6 separate regions of the Homo sapiens genome follow, and all the other regions are linked to region 1. Evidence: fine-mapped expression QTL. A gene starts in region 1. Each other region holds a variant in brackets. All regions are shown on one strand. Distances are between the middles of the regions.

The links.
Region 2: its variant is fine-mapped to the expression of CBLL1-AS1 in aorta (GTEx, PIP above 0.99).
Region 3: its variant is fine-mapped to the expression of CBLL1-AS1 in whole blood (INTERVAL, PIP above 0.99).
Region 4: its variant is fine-mapped to the expression of CBLL1-AS1 in whole blood (INTERVAL, PIP 0.98).
Region 5: its variant is fine-mapped to the expression of CBLL1-AS1 in whole blood (TOPMed, PIP 0.98).
Region 6: its variant is fine-mapped to the expression of CBLL1-AS1 in tibial artery (GTEx, PIP 0.92).

What each region holds. Positions count from the first base shown.
Region 1 is chr7:107,741,692-107,746,767 of GRCh38, forward strand. CBLL1-AS1 (CBLL1 antisense RNA 1) reads right to left here and starts at 2,890. Exons shown (of 2, transcript NR_144537.1): 1 at 2,682-2,890; 2 at 1,062-1,712. It overlaps CBLL1 (Cbl proto-oncogene like 1), which reads left to right and starts at 2,451. Exons shown (of 6, transcript NM_024814.4): 1 at 2,451-2,485. The coding sequence starts at 2,473. RefSeq lists enhancers at 1,040-1,559, 1,560-2,078, 2,176-2,395, 2,746-2,925 and a silencer at 1,936-2,135.
Region 2 is chr7:107,717,125-107,722,200 of GRCh38, forward strand. SLC26A4 (solute carrier family 26 member 4) reads left to right here. Exons shown (of 21, transcript NM_000441.2): 21 at 1-685. Among named protein-coding and RNA genes, the nearest start is that of CBLL1, 24 kb to the right of the region's middle. The variant G/A (reference allele first, on the strand shown) is at 2,908.
Region 3 is chr7:108,148,461-108,153,536 of GRCh38, forward strand. NRCAM (neuronal cell adhesion molecule) reads right to left here. Exons shown (of 33, transcript NM_001037132.4): 33 at 1-1,687. The coding sequence ends at 1,450. Among named protein-coding and RNA genes, the nearest start is that of LAMB4, 21 kb to the left of the region's middle. The variant G/T (reference allele first, on the strand shown) is at 1,992.
Region 4 is chr7:107,275,672-107,280,747 of GRCh38, forward strand. All of the region lies in intron 14 of COG5 (component of oligomeric golgi complex 5), which reads right to left. Among named protein-coding and RNA genes, the nearest start is that of HBP1, 110 kb to the left of the region's middle. The variant T/C (reference allele first, on the strand shown) is at 2,966.
Region 5 is chr7:107,767,080-107,772,155 of GRCh38, forward strand. It overlaps SLC26A3 (solute carrier family 26 member 3), which reads right to left. Exons shown (of 21, transcript NM_000111.3): 18 at 4,975-5,029; 19 at 687-829; 20 at 500-565. Among named protein-coding and RNA genes, the nearest start is that of CBLL1-AS1, 25 kb to the left of the region's middle. The variant G/A (reference allele first, on the strand shown) is at 2,548.
Region 6 is chr7:107,688,719-107,693,794 of GRCh38, forward strand. It overlaps SLC26A4 (solute carrier family 26 member 4), which reads left to right. Exons shown (of 21, transcript NM_000441.2): 9 at 335-482; 10 at 1,406-1,519. Among named protein-coding and RNA genes, the nearest start is that of SLC26A4-AS1, 29 kb to the left of the region's middle. The variant C/T (reference allele first, on the strand shown) is at 2,449.

The DNA.
Region 1 (5,076 bases):
AACCTTATGCTCTATAAATAAATATTAATGGCAACTCTTGATAAAGAAATTGTGACTGGTTACAGCACGCTGGTCGCTGAAAAGAGATACTAGAGGGCAGTAATAAAACATAGGTAAAGAAATTAATTTATCACACTGCTACTGCATTGGTAATTCAAGGCAACCACAATTAAGGGGGTAAATACAGACCACAGATGCTAAAGCAATGCCTGAAAGTAAGAGATGTCAAATCAAATCAAACAAATGTTTAACATTTTATCAGATCTAAAGTAAGTACATCTTCTCTCAGTAAATTTTCTTGATGCACCATAAAATGCCAACAAAACTTCTAACTTACAGGTTAAATTATATAAAATACAATTTGAAAGCTCTTTTTAATTCTAATTATTTAAATATTAGCATCAGCAGACATTAATAATACTATTCTGAACCTGGATTTCCATGAATCTGAAGGTTAACCGTTAGCTGATAGGCTAAGTATGATAGAACAAAAAAATCAAAGCCAGTGGTGGTGATGAGCATCTGTAGTCCCAACTACTCCGGAGGCTGAGGCATAAGGACCCCTTGAGCCCGGGAGTCCAAGGATGCAGTGAGCTATGATTCTGCCATTGTGTTCCAGTTTGGGCTGCCCCATCTCTAAAAAAAATTTTTTTAATATGAAAAAGAAGTACTTTCTAAGTGAAAACTTAAAAAAAAAAAAAAAACCCAAATTGGTGAAAAATGCCTGACTATATCAACACTGTATTTAGAAAAATAGGGAGGTATGGGAAAAAGGTTAGGCAAGCCCCAATGCCCAAAACAATAATCCCAGAAACTGAAAGCATCTTGAAAACCACCTAGCAATACAGAACTTTACATTTAAAAAAAGCAGGGGTAATTTTGATTCACAAATGTCCTTAGTTGTGAATGTACCTAAAAACTTGTTTATAAAGCTGCATATATAGAGCAGAAAAATCTTTTACAAGATCTCAGGAAAATAATCACCAAATAACATGGTGCACTTAAATCGCACTGATCATCACAGCATGATTCACAAATAATACCGTACAACTACAAAGATATAACACATCGCTACACATACTTTATTTGCAATTCAGTACCATGAAAACATTTCTCTAAGAGGTCAATGTAATAATCTTTTATTGATATAGGAACTCTGGCACTGAAAGCTTGAATAACCCAAGGTAATGATGTCGTCACCAAGGGAGGACAAGAATAGAACCCAAATCCCTTGACTCCCAAGCTTGTGTTTTCCATTAATTGTGCTCCTTTCTATTCATCCAAGAGCATCAAGTGTAAAAGGCTGGAGAAAGGAGTGGACACAAATGAGCCAAGTCCGCAAGGTGGAGACTGCACTGAAGGTCCTAGGAATCGCCCCTTGGCACTTTCCTTTTGTGTTGGCTGAGGAAGATGAAAGCAGCAACAACCACAAACTCCTGGGACCAAGAACTGGAACTAGGTACTGCTTGTTGTGGTAACTCTCTTCCTCATTTTAGGCCTTTCCTTTTTAACCTCTCCTTCCGGCCAAGCCTTCGCGCTCTCTTCCCCTCCCTCGGTTTCTATCCGCTCCCGTTAGCTCCACTCCGCACATTCCTGCAAGGTGTCCCCGTTAAGAGGAGGCAGCTGCGCCGCACTGGCTCTCCACCCTCCATCCGGCCCTGGCGCCCAGTCGTCAGGTGTTCGAGAGGTTCGTAGCGTCACAAGCGCTCTCCCTAGAAAGTGAGTGGCAGTCAAGCATTATAAACGTGTTTCAACTGTAAAGAGACTTAAGAGATGGGAACCGGGGCATATACCAAGTTAGCTCTGCGTGGGTCTAGGTAGCTCGTCACGACAAAGCAAAATTTAGACAAGCGTTGAGACTTTCCTTCTAGCTCCGAGTTTCACAGCTCCGCCATCCCCTGAGCAACCTCCCACTGGAGGGCGCCTTCCGGAGCGCGCGTGTTTACACTTTTGCTACACCAGGCGGAGGAAACAAGCGCTCGCTGACCCCGGGGGATTCCAAACCGTTACTCCGCCCGCCGGGGTGGGGCCAGCGCAACGGCCGAGCCTGCGCAGCCAGCCGGCTCCGGGGGCCCCGCGCACTACAAGTCCCAGAAGGCAGCTCTCCGCGGGGCGGGCAGTCGCCTTATCTGCTTCTGGCTCATTTTTACCACTGCTCTCCCCTTCCCCGGTCCCCCTGGTGTCCTTTCCACAGTTAAAGGCTACTTTCTCTTGAAGCACATGAGGAGAAGCCTTAGCAACCTCAATACCGAAGTTCTTCGCGCGCTCGCTCTTTCTGCCTCCGCCCGAACTATGCCTGAGTCCCTCACAGGAGTTGGATAGTAGAGGCGAGAGAAGGAAGTCTTTGCAGGCCAAAATTGGGACAACCTGCTTGGACTTCCGCCTCCCGGCCTCCGGAAGGCAGTGCGCACGCGCTCGCTGCGACTCCGGCGCGGTTGACTTCCGCTCCCACTGTGCTCTGCGAGCCGAATCATGGATCACACTGGTAAGGAGGCGGAGGCAGTGGGGGTCCCGGTTCCAAGCCCCCTTGGCCGGCCTGGGGCTGGTCGCACAGCAGGCAAAAGGGATTATGCTCGCCCCACAACACTAGGGTGTGGCAGTGAGAAGAAATCTCACAGATGCCTTCCTGTGCCCGGCAGGGGCCTGCGGTTTCCTGGCCTACCGTCTGGTGTGGTACCTACCTCCTCCGTGCCGGCAACAACCGCTCCTACTCTGGTTCTGCTGAGCTCCGAGCCCGGACCAGTGGGCGATGTAGGCCTTCGGGAAGGGAGAGCCCCGGCTCTGTTTTATTTAGCCCAGCTGCTCTGGCCTACGTTATGGAGACTGGCGGGTAGATTGCGGTCTCCGAGTCGCGGAATCCTCTTTACGCTGGGAGTGGACGGGCGAGAATGGGTTGGAGACTTCCTGCTGTCTCAGTCAGCTTTGGGCGGGTGCTGCAGTGGTCACCCCCTGTCGTCTCTCCGATCCTTTATGGACTAGAGGGGTGAAAGAAGGGAGTCTGATAGAGTTTTTGGAATCAAACTCGGAGCAGTTTTTCTACCTAAACCAAAAGCATGCCCCGCGCTTCGGCTGAGGTCCTTACTCATCATTTGAGGGTATTTACAAAGAGGAGTTTAAAATCAAGGCATTCTCATACTTTTCTCCAAGTAAGAGTGGCTCCACCCTTTGTTATGTATTTTCTGGCTTTTGCTTCTTTGTGGTTCTTGGATATTGAATGAGTGCTCTTGGAGTTATGTGCCCCATACATTTATAGCGACCGTATCACAAATAGAGAAAAAAAGGCTTTTTCTTGAGTATTGAGTTGTCCTCACTCATCAGATATCTACTTGGTTATATAATTAGGTGTGTATGTTTATTTATGTAGGTGTGTATGTTTATTTATGCAAGATACATGCAGATATCTATAGGTCGGGAGATGGAAGATGGAATGGTAAACGAGACGGACCAGGTCCGTGATAGAACTTCTGTTTTATGGAGGAACACAGACAATACGTTCTTTTTTTTTAAATTTATTATTTTTTTAATGTTTGCGGATTATTTTGAAGAAAATAAACGAGTGCTGTGGAGAGATTCATAGGACGAAATTTCAGAGAGGGTTGTTAGGAATGGTCTTTGTGGAAGCTAAGATCTGATGGATGAGAAGAACCCAGCCCTGGGAAAAAAGCAAGAGGAAGAGCATTTCCAGCAAGTGCGAAGGCACTGAGGTAGGAAGATACAGTGAAGTCAGCTGCAGCCTCCTAATAGCCAGAGGGTAGGAGTCCTGAAGTGAGATTGGAAAGGAGGGCAGCAGGCACATCATTCAGGTCATTGAAAGCCGTGGTAAACGTTTGAATTTTAATTTAAGTGAATATGAAGCCATTGAACAGAAGTGGAGGAGGAACACAGTCTCTTAAAAAATACAATAGGCTGTTCTATGAAGAATGGTGTAAGAGAGGGAGGTAAGAATGATGGAAAATAGCTGATTGCAGTAGACGGGAAGGGAAGGTTGGTTTGGTGAAAATGAAGGAGAATGGGCAGCTTCAGTAAATACTCTGGTGGTGTTTGAAGGAATGTGAGAGAAAGGAGAAATGCCTAGGCTTTTGGTTTGAGCAACTAGGTAGGGTCCATTATTGAGCTGAGGAAAACTTGGGGCAGAAAACAATCTTTTTTTGTAGAGGTGAGACGGGAATTTGGGAACAAGTGTTTGGTCTTGGACTGCTAGTGTGAGATAACTACTGAGACACAGGAGAGATGCCAAGTGGAGATGAGAGGAAAGATCTGCACTGAAAATACGTATTTGGAAGTTAGTACCTTTATTTATAGCTGGTATTTTAAAGCATGAGGACAGATGAGACCACTTAAGAAGGGTGTGTTCAGAGGAGAAGCCGGCCTAGAACGAGGCTGTAAAGAATTCCAGTGTTTGGGAATTTATAGAGTTGAAACTGGGATTTTGATGTTAGAATAGCAAACATTCAACTTTAGGAAAGTAATTCTTATTTGAGCCCACTACTGGAATTATGAGTCAAGTTCCTGCCATAGTTTAGAGGCTATTATGTTAGGAAATCATAATAGGGGTGAGTGTAAAGAGTGTTTATTATCTTAATTCTTGAAGTTTAGAGATTGCCTAAGGAAGTAAAACTCATCTTAACATGAAAATACTCACGAATGAGCTGACCACTTAAAAAATTAGTTCCCTCTCAGATGTCCCTTCTGCTTAACACTAGCTTCTTACCTATTTTATTTTTTTTAAATGAATCAATCTCTTTGATGTTTAGTATCAGAAGACAGTATCAAATACTGTGCACTGATTGTGAAATAAAATTATAAACCTTGTAGAAGATTCTGGTTTTCATGAAATTCGTAAACATGAATTTGATAATTGTTTAAATCACAAAGGCTTTGACAAATGAGGAAATGCCACTTAGCTAGATAATTGAAGAATCATGACAGGATAGGCATCTCAAAAGAATAATTGTAATATTAAAGGATTAAGAGGTCCTTGGGGAAACAGATGAAACCCTTGAACATTATGCAAAAATGACCCATTTTATGATCATACCGAAACATTCAAATGTGAAAATGAAGGTGTTCTAATAG
Region 2 (5,076 bases), 25 kb before region 1:
AGGCGGGTGGATCACGAGGTCAGGAGATCGAGACCATCCTGGCTAACATGGTAAAACCCCGTCTCTACTAAAAATAGAAAAAAAGAAATTAGCCTAGCGTGGTGGCTGGCGGGCGCCTGTAGTCCCAGCTATTTGGGAGGCTAAGGCAGGAGAATGGCGTGAACCCGGGAGGCGGAGCTTGCAGTGAGCCGAGGTCGTGCCACTGCACTCCAGCCTGGGCGACAGAGCAAGACTCCGTCTCAAAAAAAAAAAAAAAAAAAAAAAAAGAGTGAATGTAATAGTCTTGCAGAAAATGAATGAATACCTTTGTTCAATAAAGGAAATATGCACTGCTCACTTTTTTGAAGGAAATGCCAAAGTTACGTTTTACAACAAGGCTAGAGTTTGTAAATTCTGGGTTCATTTGTGATGACATAAGTCAGCAAACTGCGGGAATACTGTCTCTTCTATGTATTTTGTGAATAGTAAGCATAATTTTAGTTTTGTATTATCAATGAAAATTTCACTTGAAATTAAAGCTGCCTTTTGTTATATTTTTAACCTATAGGATAAGATTCCAGTATTGTATATGAGTTTTAACAAATTAAAAAATCAAATCATGTACATTTGAAAATATTTGCACACATTTAAAAATAAATGTAAAGTTGTCTTTTAAACTACTCGGATGTGTCCTTTCTGAACAAAACTATTAAATATAATAAAGAATGTGCCAGGAGCAGTGGTGCATGCCCTTGTAGTCTCAGCTACTTGGAAGCCTGAGGTGGAAGGGTCCCTTGAGCCCAGGAGTTAGAGTCTCAGCCTGGGCAACACAGCAAGACCCTGTTTCTATAAATAAATAAATAAAATATAATAAAAATACTTCATTCTAAGTTTGTCATTGCTCTTATCAGTCATCATTATGAGGCATTCTTTATAGCACCACTTCTGTTTATAATTCCTTTGTGTAGATTTATCAGTGCAATAAACAACATTACTCACAAATATCACAGTTAAACCTTGTGATTCTTATCCAAATATTTCCAGTTTATTTTGTGCAATGGTTATTATTATTTTAAGCAAACTTTTCATTCTGGCACAACATATGTAAAAAAGGATACAAATCACAGTGTACTGCTTGAAGAATTTTCACAAAACAAGCACACAAGGGTGGCCTGTGCCCAGATCAAGCAGCAGAATGCCACCGGCACCACATAAACTCTTCATGCTCCCTCTTAGTTGGTTGCCCCAAAGGGCAATTACTGTCCTGACTTTTAAAATCTGTTTTTTTTGAATTGCATAGAAATGGAATCAAAGATTATTTCTTTTTTCCCCCTTTCTTTTGTGTCTGTCCTCTTTCACTCAACATTATAATCAAGAGATTCATCCATCTTATTCAATATAGCAATCATTCATTCATTCTCCCTGCTGTATAGTATTCATTCCATTGTAGAATTTACCACCACTTATGTATTCATCCTACAGTTTGTGGATATTTGTGTCGTTTCCAGTTTTGGGCTCTCATGAATAGTGCTACTATGAACATTCTTGTGAGGCATCCTTGCACATTCCAGAAATATTTGGTGGGGTGGGGTTCCTCTATCTGGGGCTTAGATCTGTGAGGTGAGAATCAATGAAATTAGGGTTATTTTCCATTTGCATCAGGTTAGGTATCTGAAGAAAGTTTGGTTTCAGTTAGAGTAGCATTTATCATGCAAACAATTTAACAGTGTAACAAAAACCACACAAACTTTAGTTAAATCACATGAAGTTCAGTTCTGTAAGAAAGTCACATAATGACAAATACCTAGAAAAAGAGTGGAAGAGAGAAAAAGTAGAAACAATGAGGGGAGAAGGAAAGGAAGTTCAGAGGGGAAAGTAAGGGAGAAAAAGGTAAGAGAACCACAGAGAAAAAGAATGACAATTAGGGAAGGAAGAGAAATAAGAAAGGGAAAATTAACGGAAGAAAGAAAAGACGAAGGTAAAATAAAAGGTGGAAGGAAGAGAAAGACTAAGAAGAAGAAAGGAATGGTGGCGTAGAGAATTTCATAATGGGAAAATAAAATCCAAATAGAGGATTGATTTCAATATAATCATATCCTTCGAGAACTCAGAGAAGTGAGCAACACTCCCTCCCCCACATGCCACACCATCTCCTGAATTCTTGGTCCCCCTTACCCAGCTCTTTTCATTAATATCAGCTTCTAGTATGCTGTGTAATTCACTTATTACTGTTTCTCTTCCTGCCGCCTCGCTTATACTAGAACATAAGCTTCACCAAGGCAGGGTTCTTTATTTTGTTCCTGGACATATACCAAGTATTCAGAAGAGTAAAGAGTGTCAGACACACGGTAGAGGTGCAATAAATACTCTCAGATGAATGCATTAAGCTAAAGTCAGTGATGCTGAGTAAGGTTAACATAATTTGAGAATGGCAGTCATTAAGTACATAAGACATTCAGAGTTTCCTGAGCTTGCAGGCCTATTCCAAAGACTTACTGTGACAGCTCACCTGCTTGCCTGTCTGCCTTACCTATTGGTCTCCAGAAAATGGCCTGGGAATTCACTTGTATGTTAGCAGAGCTTCAGGGAATTAAAGGCCCTTTAATGTCTATATCCATTTTGAATATGCCAACCAAGTCAGCCCACTTCATCCTTTTCTTCAGGAACATTTTTGGGCGTGAACATTGAGGTGCTGTTTTTGCATAAGGTCTTCTAGTTTCAAGGTGATTCCCAAAGCATTGTTTTAGATCAAGTGCTCCAATACTCTGAGTCCCCTTCCAGCTCCTTTAAAACTTTTTATTTTGAAATAATTATAAATTCACAGGAATTTGCAAAGAAATATATGGCAAGATTCCCATGCACCCCTCACCCAGGCTCCCACAATGTTAACATCTTGCCTAGCTACAGTACAATTTAAAAAAACAACAC[G/A]AAATTGGCATTGGTATAAACCATAGACCTTATTCACATTTCACCAGTTATACATGGACGTGTGTGTGTGTGTGTGTGTGTGTGTGTGTGTGTTGGGGCACTCTATGCAATTTTATCCCATGTATAGCTTTGTGTAAACACCATCACAATCAAGAAGTTTAACTATGCCATCAGCACAAGACTCCTTCTGGGGACCCTTTTAAAAATGCACTCCAAGTGCAGATATACCTCTTCTTCTGACACCATTCCCAGACTTATGGCTGAACAAAGACATTCTGAATTAGAGGAATAGCTCTGATATTAGACTTCCTACAATCAGGGTAAGTTGAACACTGAATATTCTGTTGTAGAATTCATTTGCAATGACTTCTGGTGAGCCTCCAATGAGGACATACTCTTTCTCTGCAATTTCATTTTTGCCCACAGCCACCTCAGCCATGGAGGAGCTCTAGGTGATACTGGGGAGCATGTAAAGGTCACCTTTTAGATGTTAAAGAATTTTACAAGTCCTTGGCCAGCCAGTACTGCAAGCTGGGAGAGACTCTTCACAAGAAAGATCAGGTATGATTCTTGTCAAGGCATTTGCAAACTAGTGGCACTGCCTAACACTTGAGGACGGTTCTTATTTCCGCATGTTGACCAAAGTAGTGAAGCCTACTCTCTCCAGTTGCATTCACTTCCTAGCTCATCGATTTGTAGTAAACCAGCACAGCAGGATCATTTAACCCATTCCTTTAAGCCTATGCCATATACAAAAGAAGGAGGTCTGGACATCTTTCTATTCCCTGACCTGGAAGTATTTGGTTGAGTAAGAGAGGGCCAGACCTTTAGAACACACACATGAGCCCATGACCTGTCTCCAGTAAGTTCCCAGTTAAGTGAGTAAGGGAAGAAGGTGGTAAGAAATGAGGCTGGAAGATGACCTGGGGCCAGCTAACGAGAAGCCTTATATACTACATAAAGGAGCCTAGGTTTTATCCTCCAGTGTGGTAAGAGATAAAGACAAATGGCTGGGTTACATTACCTCGCTAATCCAATCAGGTGATCTAGGTATCTAGAAATAAATTCAGAAGGTGAAATTAAAGTGGAGATGAATGAGGCTTTTGTTTTTTGTTTCCAAAGGGAGTAAGAGATGAAAGCAGACATACTAGCTTTTGTGATTTAGAAATAAAAGGCTTGTTCCATGGATGTGATTTTTATTTTCATAGCCTATCCTTTAAAGATAATTTTAGTATTCTATTATTTATAATTACATGAAGCACTACTTTTATGGTAGAAAAAGAAATATGTGCTATTTAAAAACATATAGGTAGAAATAGATATTGATTTGAGATTGTGGAGTTAACATTTCCTTATAAACATGTTACTGTTTCTATGTGAGAGTCATTGTTTCTTCTGATTTTACTTGCTTGTAATAAAGAAACTTTTGGTCCCTAAAACAAAGCAAGGAGTGATTGCTCAATATTTCTGTTTAAACCCGTTATTAAATGTTTACAACAAAATACAAGCTGTGGCAAATGAGCATTCTGTGCTTACTGCCATCTTCTCCCAAAGAATTAAAGGGCTTGAAAGTGTGGGAGTGATGCTCTGCTCTTCTTTCTCCCCAGCCCTTCTTCTGCATAATAAGTGGCTGGCCTAACCAGAGGCAGAGCCAGCCACATGGTGTAAGGAGGCATGGGATAAAAACTTACACTCAGGGGAGAAACAATATGCAGGCCAAATTTGCCTGCTTAAATAGTTGAGGCTAGTTTCTCTTTTTAGTTTCATCTTCCTCTGCCCATCTGCATTCCTACCCCAAAGTATTAGATTTTTCCATTAGTTCCTCATTCATTCATTCATCAAATGTTTAATGTGCACCTACTTTGTAATAGACACAGAACTAGGGGCTGGGTATCCAGGGAATGGTTAAAAAAAAAAAAGACAGTTGCTATTCTCACGGAACTTATAGTCTAACGTGGGAGATGATCAGTAAAGAAGTAAACATACCAATAAATATATAATGACTACTTACATAGCCATAGCCATTATAAGGAGGTAGAGACTGAAGGCGACAAATGGAGGGCAATAATAGAGAATGATAAGAATAGCACACTCTCTAAAGAGGTAACATTTAAGGAAGGAATTGGCATGTACAGATCTGGGGAAAAAGTTTTCAGGCAGAGGGAACAG
Region 3 (5,076 bases), 410 kb after region 1:
TGAGCATTCCTTCAACCATAGGTTGTTATAGATTTTCATATTTGGAGGTAACCCATTTGATAGATATTGTTTATGAATACGATAGAATATATATTTACTTTTTAAACTGCAGATGTAATCCCTTGGACCGTTGGCCTTTTAAGCACTTGCCTGATTTCTTAGATTCTGAAATGTATCCATAACAATTTGCATACACGTTGTTTAATGCTGCAGAGTTTTGAACACTTACATAGGTAAAGTCTTGGAGAATAATATATTACTGTTGGCATGCTGTTGTATGCTTTTAGTGTTGGAATAACTTAGTTTTAAAATTAATTTTCTAGCATGTTGACATCTTTCTTACTGAATGTAATAGAAACCATAAAGGACCACAAAATCATCATGTGCTTCAGTTGGCAACAAAGATTTTCTTTTTATGCTTATGAGGAAATGCTATTTCTAATAAACTGTCTTATTTTTATTTTCATGTTTCCTTCTTTTCCCAGCATTGCAGTTTTCATGAACTCTGCTTTTTAAAAGTTACTTTTAGACAATGACAGTAATCTAGGACCCAGAATGGACTGGACCAGCTGATACAGAATGCACGATGTTGTGGAATGCTTAATATCTGAAGGCACTGTATGTGTCTTGCCCTGTGTTCTCTGAAATAATGTTTGAAATTTAATTTGGATGATTTGTTTTTGATTCTTTCAGTATGGCACAAATGCCGAAATGCACTGCAATACACATTGTTTATGCCTAAAAACAACCGAACATAGAAATGATGTAAAAAGTAGAACACTGTGCTGCTGTAATGCCTGGAAGATTAAGAAGCCTACGGAGTAACAGGAGCCAAGAGTAGGTAATAGTTCTCAGTAAGCATCAGCAATGTGACTGTCATAATGAACTCATTTAGCAAGTATATACTGTACAAACTGTTCCTAACAGTCTCCCAAAAAGACTAACGACAGCTATACATAGTCACCAATTTCACAACAATGTCCACAAAGACATTGAAGTTCTAGAGAATACTACAGTAACATTCTTGACAATGAAAACGGAATTCATATATAGGGGTTCAGCTGAGGGTAGTATAAACAAAGTATCAAACCATGTTTTCATAACATACACGGGTATGTCCTTTAAATGTGGAGCATTTTTCATGCATCATATTGAACTGTATCCTGCAGAGGAAATAACAGGATCTGTTGGTGATGTTGCATTATTTTTTATCAGTTCTGAGGAAATCAAGAATACCCATTTTGAATGAAAAAGTATGCACTTTGCATTCCAGTTCATATTAACATATCATTTGACTGAGTTATGTTTTTGCTGTAACTATTCTCATAATACTAACATACAGCAGAAAATATACTCTCTACCCATATGTTCATAGTATGAGAGGGCTGACAAACAAGTGCTTAGGATAAACATTCTAGAGAAATGGAATATTGGCAAAGAGCTTAAAAATTAAACAAAGGAATTCATGGCGTTGACAGGAGAAGGTGCCTCTGAGCTTTCGTTTCCTTCAGCCGGCTCTTTCTCTTTCTTACCACTGTATTGTCCAATAAAGGAGCCATCCTCATTGAACTGGCCATTAACCCCTTCTCCATAGTCAACTAGGCTGTCGTCACTATCTTCTTTTTTCACAGTCCTGTCTGAAGGAGTTCGACTTCCTTTTTTCAAAGGCTTGTGGTCTTCTGCATCACTGGAAGAAAGAGAAAACATTTTTGTCAAGATTGGCATTTAGGTAACATTTTCTGTTTTTAAAGACCATGCATGCAAATTATGAGAAAGCATTTGGAGTCCTGGGCTTCTCTGGCCAAATCTAATTTTCAGGTTGACTCCAATGACGAGGATGAGTTGGAATGGAAATCAGGAGCAGAAATGGTTGAATCATGAAGTCTTCAGTAGAGTGGATGGCTCCCAATAGTGTTTGTTAATTTCAATGACAAATTCTGATTCCTGAGTTGAAAGCAATCCAGAAATAATCACAAGCATTAAATAAGAAA[G/T]AATTCAGAAAAGTAGAAAAATCATCACTATTTTGAATTCAAAAAGGCAAAAGCTTATGGCAAGTAAAGAAGTTAGTATGTTAAACTGCATAATATCTCTGATTCCTTGGTTGTGAATGGAGCATGATTTTGGTTAAGTGTGAAATGTGGATTTTTTTTTTCTGAGCCAGAAGGAGAAGCAAAATCCTGCATTTCAAATAATTTTGTTATCAATGCAGGCCAGACTGTAAACTTCAACCTTACCTTTCAAGAGACCTACAAAATTCCATTAAAAGGATGCAGAAGAAACAAATGAAAACAGCCTAAGAAGAAAAGCAAAATCCTTATACTGATAGTACACAGTATTTTTTTGTTTTTTTGGTAAAAATTTTAGTTAATGAGTAAAGATTTATTAATCTGGAAAGAGACGCACTTTAACTTAAAAGCTCTACATTTGTACTATGAATGGCATGCCAATATATTCTAAAGAATGTGAATGACTCCAAACATGTAATAGCAAATGCTTCCTACACTCATGTTAACCCCCCAGCTCCCTTCTTCCTTGTGTGTTATGCAGCCTGACTATACTGGATGGGAATCTGAGGAGTGTACTTTAATACGACTTTACAAGATTCCATTATTACAATTTTTGCTTATTTCTCTGTTGAACCCGTAAGCACAATTTCTGGAAGACAAAGAGTAATCATTATGTTTTTGAATGTTCACCCATACGGTCAAATACCTAGTTATGCATATTGACCTATTTTTTAATAGGTAACATTTGGGAAAAAAATAGAAAAAGGCAATGACAGGATCTAACATTTTGTTTTCTTTCAAAGAACAAAAATGCAAGGCAAAATAGGAAACATATACATTTTTACTAATGTAAAAATGAAAAAGCCTTAACATACAAAAGGTATCACTGGCTGCAGTATTTAATCTAGCAATTTCTGCTAAGACTTTACTGCTCCCTCTGTTTCAGACAGTGACTTTTTTTTTCAAGCCAAGATACAAACATTTCAAGATGCACAAGTATCCTGGCTCTTTTGACAATAACTTTTACTAGGGATTTCAATTTTTCTCCAAGAAGAAAATCTGAAGACTGGGAAATAATGCTAGCATAATATGACACTGGCATATGCCACTGAAAACAACCTGTTTCAGTAATACACAATTTCTTATTGCAAACTGAATAAACTATATTTTCACCACTGCTAATAAACAACTGGAGAGGTATCATCTTGGGGTGGTCTGTGTTTGTGAGCATTTCAGAGGACATAGCATTGAGTGTCTAACCTGTTATGAAAATAGCCTACACAACATCTCTGGGGTTTAATTATTAAATCCTTCTTGTGAAATATAGTTCATGTTTCAGTGTGACAGTTAATTCAGCTGAAGAGTTCAATAACAGGCAGAATTTGTCACCTGGATTCCAATGACTAGTCTTATTCTGCTCTGTAGAACTAGTGTCCCAAGGAATACACTGCTGGAAATTTGTCATCTGTGGCATTTCTTTGGTCTAGCCATCTATCCACCCATGCCTTCATCCAATAAATGTTTATTGAGTGACTACTCTAAGATAGATTGTTCTCGGCACTGGGAATATAGCAGCAAACAAAACAGACTAAAACCCTCACCTCACTGGCTTTATTTCTAGTGGAAGAAAATACAATTAACAATCAACATAATAAAAAAAATTACATATATATTATGTCAGAAGAGGATTAGCACTATGCAAAGTATAGAGCTGAGTAAAGACTGCAGAAGGTGTTGGAGAAGGGATGGAGAGCTGGCATTTAATAAGATGTCCAGGAAGACCTCATCAAGCAGTAATATCTGGTCAACAACTTTAAAAGAGTTGAGTTAGCAAGGTGAATAGTTGGAGGGAGAGCAGTTCCTGCAGGAGTAACAAGCAGTATAAATGTCTCGGGGTGAGGGGAAGCCTGGCAGGTTCTAGGAACACTAAGGAGCTTGGTGTGGCTGGGGGGAGGGAGAGAGAGAGAGAGAAAAGTAGGAGTTAAGTAAGGGGAGTGGCACGGCTAAATCAGGGCTTGTGGAACATTGTAAGGACGCTGCCTTTAACTCTGAGTGAGACAGGAAGCCCTGGGAGGGTTTCAAAGAATAAGTGACATGCTCTGACTTATATTTTAAAAGCACTACTCTGCCATCAGTGTTGAGAATAGCCTACCTTAGAGGGCTGGGGTTGGTAAACTACAGTAAAATTAGGCCACGCCCATTTATCACATAATGTCTATGGCTGCTTTAGCACTACAATAGCAGAATTGCAGAGTTGCAGCAGAGACCGCGCGGCCTGTAAAGTCTAAAATATTTAGTTGGCCAACCTCTGCTCTATAGAGTCAGGGGAGAATATTACAATAATCCAGGAGTGAGATGACTGTGACTTGGACCAGAGTGGAACACTGGAGGTGGTATAAAATGCTCAGATTATGAACATATTTTGAAGGTAGAGCCAACAGGATTTTCTGATAGGTTAGACATGGAATAACAGAGAAAAAGATGGTGCCAGGATTTTTGGTTTGAGCAACAGGAAGCTTGGAAGTACTGTTACTATGGAGTGGAGCATGTTGGGAGGGGAAAATCAATGGTTCCATTTTGAGATATTAAAGTTTGAATATGTCATGAGAACCACTCCTTTAATCATTTTTTGAGGCTAGTATAACATTGATATCCAAAACCAATAAGAATGCTTTAAGAAAGTCAAACTACAGGCTAATCTCATTCATGAACATAGATGAAAAAACCCCAAACAAACCATGACCAAACCAAATTTAGCAATCTATGAAAAAGATAATATTTCATATCCAGGTTGGGTTTATTCCAAGAATGCAGGCTTATTTTAGCATTAAAACATCAATTCATATAATTCATTATTTTAGCAGAAGAAAATAAAAATATGATAATCTCAGTAAATTTAGAAAGAGGTATATGAAAAAACTCAACACCCATTCATGATAAAAACATTAGGAATAGAATGTATTTTTATTCCTAACATTAGGAATAGAATGTATCTTCATTAACCTGATTAAGGGTAGCAACAAGAAACCTAAAGTAAACATCATCCTTAATGGTGAACACTGAAAACTTT
Region 4 (5,076 bases), 470 kb before region 1:
CGCCACCACACCTGACTAATTTTTGTACTTTTAGTAGAGATGAGGTTTCACCATTTTGGTCAGGCTGGTCTTGAACTTCTGACCTGAGGTGATCTGCCCACCTCAGCCTCTCAAAGTGCTGGGATTATAGGCATGAGCCACCATACCTGGCCAATACTTTTAGAACTTAAAAAAAAAAAATTGAACTCATATTTGAGCTCATATGTCTCTATACCATTTAAATATCACACATGTATGTTTTTTTCCATCATAGGAATGTCAAGTCTCCAACTTATAAAATTATATAAAGAATAAAGTGTATATTTACAAAGCCTTAAAATAAAACCTTAGTGTCTAGAACTATTGACCTCATACATAGCTACTGATCTGCATTGAAGTTGAGACCTCCCCTTAAATGTCATTCCTATTATTGTTTCAAATGGTCTGCAACCTGATTAAATGCCAATCTCCTTTCTCACAGTTCATAACATTTGCCATTTACACTAAGATTCTAGATGCCATTCCCTGGAACCATCAAATAATGGTTACTGTTGGAAAATACCCTTCAGTTTTTAAAAGGGATACTTATTAATATATTTGCCTCCAAAGTTGATATCAAAAAAGTTTACAAGCCTATAAATTTTAAAGGTGCCACAACAGTTCCCTTATGTACTAATATTTTAGTTTTCTTTTAACACACAGAGGATAAGAAAAACACTAATTCAAACTTTCCATTGTGGCTAGGTACAGTGGCTCACACCTGTAATCCCAGTACTTCAGAAGGCCAAGGCTATGGATCATTTGAGCCCAGGAGTTCGAGACCAGCCTGAGTAATGTGGCGAGACCCTCCATCGCTACAAAAAATAAGAAAATTAGCTAGGCATGCTGGCATGCCCAGAGGCTGAAGCGGGAGGATACCTTGAGCCTGGGAGGCAGAGGTTGCAATGAGCCATGATCATGCCACTGTACTTCAGGCTGGCCAACAGAGTGAGACCATCTCAAAAACAAACAAAAAACCCCAAACTTTCCACTGTAAGGTCTAGTGACCTTTTCTTCTAAAGGTCACATTTCAGACTATACAAACAAATCCCCAATATATCACCATTAAATAATTTGTTCAGTTTAATCATAAAATATTATGATATTACACCTATAGGTATATGTGTATTTGAAACATAAAATTCTTAGTAAATTAATTATAACCTCACAATTGCTGTCAAGACAAACAAGAATTTTTAAATGAAAATCTAAAAAACCTTGATCTCAGTTTTACAAAAGAGCATCTAGAAAGCTGATATTCACATGACCCATACTAAGTTAAACACATATTGCAGGAACTAAAGCCTATTGCTTAGAACTCAGATGTGAAGCATCAATGCTAAATCCCTATTATTTCAAAATTAAACTATGAAATCATCTAACTATACATTAAGAGCACAGAAGTAAAATAAACTATTCTACACATAAATAAAATATATTATGCACGTATTAACATAGTAAATGTAGATCTTGATATATTGTAAAATGAATGAGCAATTCACAAAACAATATGTATAACACAATGCAACTTTTCTTAAATAAAAAAGATGTTATGTTTATATACAAGCTACAGATCAGAAATAAAGTATTAAAGGTTGGTGCAGAGGTGAACATGGGAGAGAATACAGTCGTGGGTTCTTAGTTTCTGTTTCTGGTTAGGCCAGTAAAGCCCCTTACTCATTATACGTTTCTGCTTAGCACTAGAGATAGAAACTAAAAACCATGGCTTCAGGCTGCTAAAAGCCTAAAAAAAACAAGAGAACAACAACAGTGAAAAATAAGGCGAGTTGGACAAGCTTGTTTTACAGTCTGGTCTGGATTTGAATGCTAGTGCCAACACCTGCTCCCAGGCATTCTAATTTTAGTAGTCTATATTACTCATGCTATTAACTGTTCTCAGCTTCAATTTCTACATTTTGTAGTGGTGGACAGTAATACTTTCATTTCATAGGATTGTTGTGAAATAAATGAAATAATATATATAAATGGCTTGGCACAATTCCTGATTCACTATAAAGGTTAATGATGGTAGTTATTTTTGTGGCCCAACCTCACTCTTAAAAATAAATTCTCTGGTATCGCTTTGGATTCAGAAGGACTGAAGGATTTATCCTTACAGAGATTTAGGTTTGTATAACACATACCTTTGGTGATTAGTAACAGAAAAGCCTTAGGGAAAAAAATACGTAATCATAAAAATAATTTCAGATGTATTATTATAAGTATATAACGCACTCTATATGTAATTTAATGTTATAATCTACTATACCCCAGAATATTAAAAATCAGCTTGAAAAAACCTTTTATAAGCCTTTCTCCTGATATGAATAAAATCTATAACTAAGTATACTAAAACGTTTCAGTAGCCAAGAGACTTCTATAACCAATCTTTAGGGAAATACATTTCAGATTATGAAAAGCTGTTCGATGTACATTTCAGGTTGTATTTGCAAGTCACTCTTTCTGAAAACATGCTTATCTTTAAAATTCTAGCTTTCCTTTATCTCACTGCTTGAGCATTCTATTAATGATCTGATTTCCCTTCCTTCCTTCCCTTCCTTCCTTTCTTCCTTCGTTTCTGTTCTTTTCTTTTTTATTATACTTTAAGTTCTGAGATACATGTGCAGAACGTGCAGATTTGTTACATAGGTATACACGTGCCATGGTGGTTTGCTGCACCCATCAACCTCTCATCTACATTAGGTATTTCTCCTAATGCTGTCCCTCCCCTACCTCCCACCCGCCAACAGGCCCCGGTGTGTGATGTTCCCCTCTCTGTGTCCACGTGTTCTCATTGGTCAACTCCCACTTATGGGTGAGAATATGCAGTGTTTGGTTTTCTGTTCCTGTGTTTGTTTGCTGAGAATGATGGTTTTCAGCTTCATCCATGTCCCTGCAAAGGACATGAACTCATCTTTTTTTATGGCTGCAGAAATAACGTCACACA[T/C]CTACAACCATCTGATCTTTCACAAACCTGACAAAAACAAGCAATGGGGAAAGGATTCCCTATATAATAAATGGTGTTGGGAAAACTGGCTAACCATATGCAGAAAACTGAAACTAGACCCCTTCCTTACCCCTTATACAAAAATTAACTCAAGATGGATTAAAGACTTAAATGTAAGACCTAAAACCATAAAAACCCTAGAAGAAAACCTAGGCAATACCATTCAGGACACAGGCATGGGCAAAGACTTCATGACTAAAACACCAAAAGCAATGGCAACAAAAGCCAAAATTGACAAATGGGATCTAATTAAACTAAAGAGCTTCTGCATAGCCAAAGAAACTATCATCGGAGTGCACAGGCAACCTACAGAATGGGAGAAAAGTTTTGCAATCTATCCATCTGACAAAGGGATAATATCCAGAACCTACAAAGAACTTAAACAAATTTACAAGAGAAAAACAAACAACCCCATCAAAAAGTGGGCAAAGGGTCTGAACAGACACTTCTCAAAAGAAGACATATATGTGGCCAACAAACATATGAAAAAAAGCTAATCATCACTGGTCATTAGAGAAATGCAGATCAAAACCACAATGAGATACCATCTCATGCCAGTCAGAATGGCGATCATTAAAAAGTCAGGAAACAACAGATTCTGTCATTTCTTAATCTTGTGGACTGGAAGCTTAAATTTTTCATCTTTGAAAAGAATCTCCTACTCATTGATTTAGTTTTCATACCAAATCTCAAGTCAATACTTCCATTTATAGGCAGAGTAGTTATCCAATTCAAAAATCTGTTTCAAGTCTTTCTTCCACTAAAGACTTACAATTTGGCTATTTTCCTCTAAATGTTTTCAGTCAAATTATTCTAAAAAAATAGGAATATTTGTAAAGATTAAAGAACAAAACAGGTATAATTTTAGCACATTGAGGGGTAGAAGAGTGTTATTAAATGCCAAGAAACAAACATTAACAGCAAGTTGTTACTTAAGACATTAGTCAATAATATATTTTTAAAAATAAGGCATATGATGTTTTTTATAATCTTATTTAATGCTTAAGCTTCCCTTATACACTAAAATGAAAGTTGAAAAATAAAACTATTTTTAATAAAAAAAGATATAATCCAATTAAAAACCAAAAAATGACAATGATTTTCTGTTAGCCTTCAACACTGCAGGTACATTAGATAGGCCTAAGTAATTTACAGCCACTGACAATTTGATCAACAGTATCAACTCAGTGAAATGTTTGCAGATATTTTGATTTCGTCTAAGCCTTTTGCCATTACTATGTTAACTGAAGTACATATTACCATTACCACTGTCCCTCCCTACTCTCAATGCAAGGTATTTTCTATATACATGCTGGATCTTTCTTACAGTGTTATCTTCAGATCTTAGCATTGTCAGTAATTACACTATACTCTACTAGATATAACACTGAATTTTATTTATAGCAATAACCATGTTTTTGAAGCAGTGAACATTATAAAAAAGATTTAAACAAAGATTGAGAGAAAAATTAGTAATCTAAATTCATAGTAATTTCCTACAAAGAGCTTCTATATCTCTGTATGGTTAGTTTTCAATAAAGTTCTTAAAAAGATGCTTCTAAGATGATTTTGTCAAGACTACAAGATCAATTGAATGAAAATAGTACCATATTTGCAAACAAAATCTGGCCATCCATGGGAACTAAAAGAAGGAAGCCTCGTAACATGACTGTTACCTCCAAGGATCATTTTATGTAAATCCTTCAGTATGTCACCAACTTACCCTAAAAATTATCACAGAACAAACTGAAACAACTTGGATATAGATAAAAGTAGATTATTTTGTTTATTATGGTATTTCAACCGGGAATGGTTAGAGAGGATAAACTGAAAACGTAGTTAGCTAACATTCTAAAGATAGTGGAGACAATCAGATTTTGACACACTGTCTAAAATTAGTATATCAATAATGGTAAAAAAAAAATATTGAAGTCTCATTTTGTTTGGATTTCAATTAGCATACATATATACTAGTGAAATATGTGTGCTTAACTTTCAAACATTAATGTATAGAATTAAGATTATGATTCAATTATGTACTTATTATTTTA
Region 5 (5,076 bases), 25 kb after region 1:
ACTCTCCAGTTAAATGCTGAATTGGCAACTCACTCTAGTAAGGAAGGATAGAAACTTGTTTCATTGCTTGACTGGGCACTGTGCTAGGGACTTCTCAAGCATCTGGCTATTGGGAGGTGTGTATTAGCTTATCATTTTCATTGCTAATTCACCTGTAAATGGAAAGAGCAATACCTTCCCTGCTACGTGGATTATTACAGGGCCAGAATAAGAGCATTGTTGTAAGTGGTTTGAAAAACAAAAGAAGATATGCTCAATATTGCATTAATGGAGATCTATTATCACTATTTTTTCATCCTGTTTTTGTACGGGTCTGAGTTTCTTTTCCTGAAAACTCCCTGTGAGATTGGTTAGCATTGCTTCAGTTTTCTAGGGATGAGGCACAGAGGCTCAAGCAAGTGCTGGACTTTCTGCCACATGCAGGAAGTGGCCTCACTACTTTGAAGGTTTTTTTTTGCTGTGATGTCTAGGTGAAGATAAACCTGTTGAAGAATCTTACCTCATATACCCGATTACGTAATCCTCCATTTGTATTTATGGTAAAATCAATTTTTCCATCTTTTTCCTGAGAAAAAGAGAATGGAAATATGGATTAGGGGCTGATTTTTTTTAATGTTGAAAAAGAGAAATTTAAGGAGTGCAGATGGCTGCTTATGCAATTGTGAAAGTCACCAAAGAGCTGATACCTGACTGGGATTAAACTTTGAAGTACTGTAATCTTTCTTCATCAAAATATGCAAAACAGCATCATGGATTGTTAAGAAAAATATTGAGCTTTTCACTTCACCATCAAAAAATTCATACCGGTTAAGCTTCTCAATGAAGTCATCTGAAGAGAAAAAAACAGTAACTTTTAGGAAGAAACAATTGTTTGGCTACCGGTTTCCCCTTGAGGCTAGTAATTTCACCTTCCATTTGCAAATGTGCGTTTCATTGACATTTGGTTAAGTGTGTGTGGGTTGCAGTGGTATAATACCAGTCTATCTTTAGTACAATGTCTTTTGGAACTAACAAATACCTTTCTAATAAAAAAAATTTAATGCCCTAATGTAAAAAGGAGGAAGGCAAAGGAGCAAATGAAAAACAGTAGTTCCTAGAAGAAAATTCATTTAGGCAGGAGCCTAGTGAATTGATCTCCCTGCTTAATGATTAGAGTATCAAGTGTGGCTTCTTATTAAAGTTTGGGATTCTGCCAAAATGGAACATATGTTTATGGACCAGTGATATGCTGTGGTTCTTTATTGTAGCCCATTTTCCCAAAGCTGCTGGGTTTTATGGGAAAACATCTTCCTTACCACTTACCTCTCTAATCATCTTTGAGAAATCCCATTTTTGTAGGCACTAAGCAGCATTCATTTACATAGATGACTCAACCAACTATTACCTTATGTCTGCCATGTGCAAAACTCTGGCTGAGTAATAAGAAAGATCAAAAGATAAATTAGACCTGAATCTTGCCCTCAAGGAAGATAGAACATTTATATATTCCTGTAGTACTGACAGAAAACGTGTGGTATAATAATGAGGGAAAGGAGCAATCTAGTTTTTTTCCTTTATTGTTTTCTTAGTTTTAAAAAAATTCCCAGCACATAGTATGTCTTCATATTTTTTGTTGAATATATGAGAGAGATATAGATCATGTACTATGAAAATTCTGAGAAATTTTCCTCTTGGTGGGTATCTGGGAAAACTTGAGCAGATACCGTCTAAACGTGCCTAGGATTTGCAGAAAAGTGGAGGAAGAGAAGGTACACAGTTATGAAGATGGATTCTTCTGTTTACAGAAAGCTTTCAGTGACAGAGGGAGAGGGAGCGTGGAGGGCATTGTGGCCACCAGGATCTGGGATGGAGTGGGTGGCATGCAATGGGAAGGAAGGTGATAATCTTTGATAAAGACTGAAAAGAATGCCAGGCAGCAGAGACAGCAGGAACAGATACTTTCCAAAATATCTGGGATGATGAGGAAAGGGTAAAATTGTTAGTAAATTAAAGGTTTCTGGGATCAAGGGGATGTTTTTAATTATAAGGAAGCCTTGACAATGGTTGAACTAATTTTCACTCCCACCAACAGTGTATAAGCACAGTGTGGCGATTCCTCACAGGGCTGAAGACAAAAATACCATTTGACCCAGCAATTCCATTACTGGATATATACCCAAAGGAATATAAATCATTCTTTTATAAAGACGCATGCATGCATACATTGATTGCTGCACTATTCACAATAGCAAAGACATGGACTCAAATGCCCATCAGTGATAGACTGGATAAAGAAAATGTGGTACATATACACCGTGGAATACTATATAAAAACATATAAAAAAATTAAAAAAAAACAATATCCTTTGCAGGTACATGGAGTTGGAGGCCATTATCCTTAGCAAAGTAATGCAGGAACAGAAAACCAAATACTGCATATTCTCACTTATAAGTGGGAGCTAAATGATGAGAACGTATGGACACATGGAGGGGAACAACCCACACTGGGGCCTATCGGAGGGTGAAGGGTGGGAGGAAGGAAAGGATCAGGAAAAGTAACTAATGGGT[G/A]CTAGGCTTAATATCTGGGTGACAAAATAATCTATACAATAAACCCCCATGACACGAGTTTACCTATGTAACAAACCTGCATGTGTACCCCTGAACTTAAAAGTTTTTTTTAAAAGTCTTGAAACTAGAATATGTCTGTATATTTTAGGGACAGGATCCAGTAGAAAGGGAGAGATTAAGGATGCCAATTTTATACTTTTCGAAGGATATGTGTACCACTTGTCTCCTCTCCCTAAAAAGCTCCCCCTAAGTACTGTCAAGGTTGACTGCCTCACTTCGTTCTAGTCTGTACTCAAAATGTCATATTGCTGGACATCCCTGATCACCAGTTTTTCTTTCTGCCTCCCTCCCTCCCTTCCTTCCTTCCTTTTTTCTCTTTCTTTCTTTCTTTCTTTCTTTCTTTCTTTCTTTCTTTCTTTCTTTCTCTTTTCTTTCTTTTTCTTTCTCTCTTTTTTCTTTCTTTCTTTCTTATTTCGTCTTTCTTCTTTCTTCTTTCTCTTTCTTTCTTTCTCTCTTTCTTTTCTTTCTTTTTTTTTTTTTTTTTTTTTTTTTTTTAAAAAAAAAAAGGGGTTTTTTTTTTTTTTTTTTTTTTTTTTTTTTTTTTTTTTTTTTTTTTTTTTTTTTTTTTTTTTTTTTTTTTTTTGATTTGAGACAGGGTCTTGCTCTGTCACCCAGGCTAGTGTGCAGTGGCACGATCACAGCTTACCGCAGCCTTGACCTCCCAGGCTCAAGCGATCCTTCCATCTCAACCTCCTGAGTAGCTGGGACTACAGGCACATGCCACCACACCCAGCTAACATTTTTTTTTTTTTTTAGAGACGAGGTTTCACCATGTTGCCCAGGCTAGTCTCAAACGCTGGGGCTTAAGTGATCTGCCTGCCTCAGCTTTCTGGAGTGCTAAGATTACAGGCATGAGCCACCGCTCCCAGCCTCTGTTTCTTAACTCTGCTTTTCTCTTAGCACTTATCACTACCTGAAATATGCTTTTGTTTGTTTATTATGTGGCTTTTCTATGAGACTATAAGCTTCATGAGGACAGAGGCTTGTCAGATTCACTGCTATATTCCCAGCACCCAGAACTGTGCCTGATAAATAGTAGGTATTCAATAAGTCTTTACTGAATGCCCATCATGTCCTAGGATCTAGGGAAGAGACAGGAAGAAGGTAAGCAGGAACAATACCTGCCCTGGAAGAGATATAGTCTAGTAGGGACAGAAACTGAACTGCAAAATTATGTGATACGTGCGTACTCTGTAGATACAAACAGTCTGAAGACCCGGTGCTCTGCCTGGGGAAGCAAGGATGTTTTCAGTTATTGTCGGAAAAATTCCTGAAGAAGGCTTCTTTCAGAAAATGGGATGGGAGAGCATTATAGGGATGGGCAAGGATATTAGTTAGAAAGTCCTTCTAGAAGGCCTAGTTGAGAAGTGAGAAGGGTCTAGATTAAAGTTCTGGAAATGGAGAGGAAGAGACTGATTTAAGAGGAAATATTTATAGGACCTGGTCATTGACTAGAGGGAAGGAGAGCAGAAATTGGTGATGGTTTCAGGGTTTCTATCTGGAAAACTAGGTAAGCAGTGATGCAGTGATTGTGATAGGAAAGAAGTATTTTTGGGAGGGGGAATCATATACGTAGTTCTAAAAGCGTGTATCTGAGGTGCCTGGGGACATCCACAGTCGAGTCCATTGGTCTGCAGCTTAGAAGAAAGGCCTGGGCTGGAGGTATAGTTTGGGGATTCATTAACAAGTAGATGCACATGAAATCATAAACATGTAGGAAATTGACTAGAAAGAGTCTGTGGAATTAGAACTATGGTATAGAGTGTACGGTTGAAGCTTGGGGGAGACTGAAAGTGGGAGAAGAACCAATGTCAGACCCTGAGGAGATGTTTGAGAGGTAGGAGGTGAATAAGAACTGTCCTGCCAGAGTCAGGGAGGGAGAGAGTTTCAAAGACAAATGCTAGAGAGAGTGCCAGATGCTCAGGTAAGCTGCTGCAGAAGGACCTGAGATGAAGGCCGTTAATCCTAACAATCTGGACATCGCTGATAACCTTGGCAAGGATGGTCTCATCAGCAGGTGAAGCTCAACCAAATTGTTATGGGCTGGATTGTGCAAGGGAAGGGAGGAAGAGAGACAGAAAACAAGGCTACCTTTTCAGGAAGTTTAGAGTGAAAAATAGTTAACATGTTCCTCCTTTGTTGCCTATGAAATCAGGATTCAAATTGTAGAATGTATTTAATTACATATCAACATAACTAAAATACAAAGATGCTGTTTCCATAGGGATTTTTATTGGGCTGGCTGCATATTAGATTTTCATCATGATTATATAAAATACTCATTCTTTGGAGAGGCTGTCTAGACTGAGAGTTGGCAGTGAGCCTGAAGTGATTGTCAGAACATAAAACAAAAATAAAGCCACTTACCATCAGTTCCAACGATATACACATCTACCTTGATCCTGATAAATTCTTGCAAAATCTGTTAAAAAGAAAAGTATATCTTCCTTAGGGAACAGTTTCACTTGT
Region 6 (5,076 bases), 53 kb before region 1:
GGAGAAACACTAACATGTGAAATGGCATGGATGGGGCTGTATGATATTAAAGAATCAGTAACAGCAGATTTATTCATGTGAGAGATAGAGAAGAGTCAGCATGGCTAGGCTCAAAAATAGAGGACAAAGAAATCAGCCAGTAAGATAACACCAACTTCTGATTAAACATTATAAAAGCTGCTACTATCATGTATGTATTTCGTGTGCTTTTTGTTCTTTTGGATCAAGTACTTTCATGTCTAATATGTGACTGAGCAGATATAGCATTTGATGAGATGGGGAAAAAGGATGGTGGTCAAATCTTCACAGCATTTTTCACTTAAAAACTCACTAGGTTTTTGCCTCCTGAACTTCCACCTGTGAGCTTGTTCTCGGAGATGCTGGCTGCATCATTTTCCATCGCTGTGGTGGCTTATGCTATTGCAGTGTCAGTAGGAAAAGTATATGCCACCAAGTATGATTACACCATCGATGGGAACCAGGTATGGGTGCCCTTTTGCTGAACTGGTTTTATAGGGCTGGAAACAGGAAAAAAACATAAATGGAAAAGATTTTGGTGTCAGCTAAAGAAGGGGTTGGATTCTTTCACCAGACCTTATTGGGTTGGTTTTCCTCTTGTGTTTGCTAATTAGAAATTATTTTGGAATAGACACACTGCATCACTTTGCTTTTTTAAGAAATAAGTTGAAATAACACTAATTTTAAAAGAGCTAATTCAGTCAGGTCATAAATAACATTCAAAGTGAACATATTAGGTCAGAAAGAGAATTCTTCATGTAACCCAGTACCTCTTGGCAATTATTTTTAACGGCAGTTATAATGTGACAAAACAGTGCAACAAACATTAATAATAGTTGTGACCACTTTAAATTGAGGTGGTTCACTGTGCAGTTAATATATACAGGCAATTTTTGTAGGCATGTGATACATTGCCAGGTAAGCTGATTTCACACTGCTTGCAAATTTGCAAGTTCTGTATCTATATGTTTCTGAAAATACAGTATAGCAATAACAGTAGTTAAATGGTTAGTAATCAAGCAGAATAACAGCACTGCTAGTCATAATATGCTTCATAGTGAATATTCAACCACAGAAAAACACTTTATGTGAGAGCTGCAGACATTCCATTCACTAGGCAGTGAAAAAGCTTAGCAAATGATCAGGTGCTATTTCTTGTCAACTTTAAAAATTATCGAGAGCAATGAGACCTCTCTCAGATGGTATGGCGTCCAAACTCCTGATGTCGTACAAGGACCCCAAGTACCTATCACGGTAAAAATTAAATTGGACCACCACGCAGAGTAGGCATGGGAGTTTTCATTCTTAATGTACTTCCTGAAATACTCAGCGAAGGTCTTGCAAAGATTCAATTTGTAGGATCGTTGTCATCCAGTCTCTTCCTTAGGAATTCATTGCCTTTGGGATCAGCAACATCTTCTCAGGATTCTTCTCTTGTTTTGTGGCCACCACTGCTCTTTCCCGCACGGCCGTCCAGGAGAGCACTGGAGGAAAGACACAGGTAGGAACAACAGCCTTATGATATCCATCTCAGAGAACAAGTCGAGGAATGGCAACAGAGGAAGGCTCGCACCGAGCTTAGCAGGACAATTTGCCTTTCAGACTTGTACTTCCTAATCTGATTCACCTCAGGCCTATTCCTCTTGTTCCACTCCCTCACCTGAAATCTCTTAAAAAACAACATGTATGGTTTTCTGATACAGTGATTCTCAAATCTATTTGTCAGTGCTTACCTGTCATGTAGCTACACTTACCTGCTGTGGTCAATAACAACTGACAAGGAATCAGTAATGAAGGATGCTGATTTTTGTTAATTTGTTACCTGGGGAGACAGATGGCCTGGTAAAAGCGCTTCCTGGCTTTAGGAGCTATTCTATTTTCAGGAAAGTGAAAAGCTCTATTCACATTTCCTTTAGAAGGATCAGGAACTTCCTCCAGGGGCGTTTGGTCCCACAGAACAACAGTTTGCTAGCCAAGAATATTTTTGTTGTAACATTTTTGGCATTTCTTCCTGAGTAAGATTTATGTTGTTGAAGTTCTGCATGTGGGTTTAATCTTATCTTTTAAATGTGGTTTGCAGTTGTTGCCTTTACAAGGTGGCCAAAAAGCCAGCATCCTAGTTAATCTCTGGATAATCCCTCCTTCAGTGTTCAGAAAGCTCAGGAGCCATACTCAAAGGCCACTCTTTCCAGCAGGACACAGTCGAAGAGACCACACCAAGCAGATGGGCACAAGAGACAGACTCAGGAATTTTGCTTCTGTCTCTTATGCCTTGAGGTCCTTATCTTCCCAACACAGAAAGAACTATTATTTAGGAGTAAGAAGTGCATTGAGACTCCAAAGAACAACAAACCCAAACTACATAGTGCAATACACACACACACACACACACACACACACACACACATGCACACACACATGCACAGTCTT[C/T]ACAGTCTTCAAATGGGTTTTACTAAGGCGGGGACACTTAAAAAATAAATATAAGTCGGGCACAGTGGCTCATGCTTGTAATCCCAGCACTTTGGGAGGCTGAGGTGGGCGGATCAATTGAGGTCAGGAGTTCGAGACTAACATGGCCAACATGGTGAAACCCCTTCTCTACTAAAAATGCAAAAATTAGCCAGGTGTGGTGGTAGATGCCTGTAATCCCAGCTACTTGGGAGGCTGAGGCAGGAGAATCACTTGAACCTGGGAGGTGGAGGTTGCAGTGAGCCAATATCGTGCCACTACATTCCAGCCTGGGCGACAAGAGCTAGACTCTGTGTCAAATATATATATACACACACACACACACACACACACACACACAAACATATATATATATATATATTCTCATATATATATACGAGAATAACTGAAAAAACTAATGACTCCAACAGTGACTTGCCCAGGGAGGGCTTTAATTGTCCCCAATATGCATGTGATGCTCCTTTCCTATTTATAATGGATCTTGTGACAGACTTGGAAGAATTGGCCTCTTCCAGTTTTTTGGCTGCTTTTCAACAAAAAATTTTATTTTCAGAATTTTTCTTAATTTTTTATTTTTTTTGCAAATATTTCCAGCTCTGAGGGAGCAGGTAAAATAATACAGCTCATATCCGGAGGCATAGCCAGAGATCTGTGGTCAAGGGGAAGAGGTCAGAGCCAATTTCCAAAGCTGTGCACATTTCAGGCTGCAGCTGTCAGCAGCAGGAACTTCTGCTGCTTTCATTTGAGACGGAGCACTGACAAGCTCTCCAGAGCACATGGTCTTCAGCGGGTGCAGGCAAATCTCAAACTGCTGATGTCCATTCTCCTGATGTTACCTCCAGGCTCAAATGAGGCATGGGCTGGCTGTCCCAGTAAGTATGCCCATGTAAAGTGACCTCCTTGGCACAGGGTTTGGGGGATAATGGTGCTCTGGTAAGCTAATACCCCCTGCCACATACTGGCATGTATTATATTTAGGAATGAAGGATGCCAGGATTTCAGCATTAAAGAATGAAACGAGTAAAGAAATGGCTTCATGTTTAATTATTGAAATGTATACTAAATTCTGGGGTTAAAAGTCTAAGTGCCTGAACTGAAATCCAGGGACTGATGGACAAATAAACTGGCAGGGCTTCTCTTGTGTGGCTTCTCGTGTTTTCTCTTATGTTGGAACTTCAGTTTCAGCATCTACAAAATGGAAATGATAATTGCATCCATTTCACAGGGATATTGTGAGGATTAGGCAAGAAAATGTAAAGCCTTAGCACATACTTGTAAATGCTCATTGTTTCACTCCTTTAGGCAAGAATAGCATCTTAGCATCTATGATACATATATTGTGCCTGGCACATAAGAAGCACCTGGCATATATTTGCTGAATGAATGAATGGAAGAATGAGTATTGGTGGACACGAACTGTTTTTAGCACATCTACAGATTGTAGAAGAATTAAACATTGGAACCTTTTCTTTCCCTCACCCCCATCTGACTTCCACTGACTCACAGAAAAGTAATTCTGATTACAAACCACTCTTTAGCTCTGATTACCCCCTCCCTTAACAGAATAATTTTTTAGTAACTGAATCTGGTTGTAGATATAAAGTCTACAGAGTTTCTCACAAACAAGCCTTATCAAGTAAGTAGAAATAATTGATCACTCACCAATTTTAATATAGTGGCCAAAATGAGCCTTGGCCTCCCATAATTGGAGACTCATTATGACATATAATTGGCAAGTAGGTGGCCACTCTCCTGGCATGAGTTTGGCAGCTGACTGTGGTCCTTGTCCCCAAATCTCCATATCTTTCTCCAGTTCACAGAGCTCCCCATCCACAGTGAGATGCAAGTGGCTCGGTAAATACTGGTTGAGTAATTGCATGCAAGGAAGGAAGGGAGGGATAAGGGAAGGAAAGAAAGAAGAAAATGGAAGGAAGGACAAGGGAGAGGAAGGGAAGGGATATGAAGGAAAGCGAAGAGAAGGGAGGGAAGTAGGATATCAGCTTCTCTGCTTAGTCAGGAGAAGGGAAAGAGCACCAGGGTACTGGGAATCTAGGATGGGGATAGGAAGAGCATAGAAAAGCCAGCCAGACATACAAAGCACGCTTTTTAGTACCTCATACACATCATATTGCCTCAGGCTGACCCAACTATAATCTAAATATAAATGATCAATTTGCCAGGTAGAGCAAGTGCTTTCTAATTTTCTGTTTATATTTGCTGTGTCTGTCTCCCGTAACTCAGACCTTTTGCACTAGACAGTACTTGTGCTCAACAAAATCTTCCCAGTTGTTTCCTCTCTGATTGCTTTGCTTGTAGTTCCCTGTCTCCTTTTCTTCTTTGTTTCAGAGCTTCTAATCTTCATCTTGGCTCTGCCCCAGCTGTCTCAACAGAGAATTCATTGGTCATCTAATCAAACGAGAGAGTAGTCCCCACCCCCTCAGCCTCTCTCCTAACTAGTATGGATCTTAGGAGAGCTATTTTTGCCAGCGAAGGTAAAGTTTCTGAAGCTTCCTTTTACCCCTGCTATTGCCCCGTTACTCCATAGTCACTGTTTCAGGCTGCCTTGGGGCAAAGCTCTGAGCCTGCCTC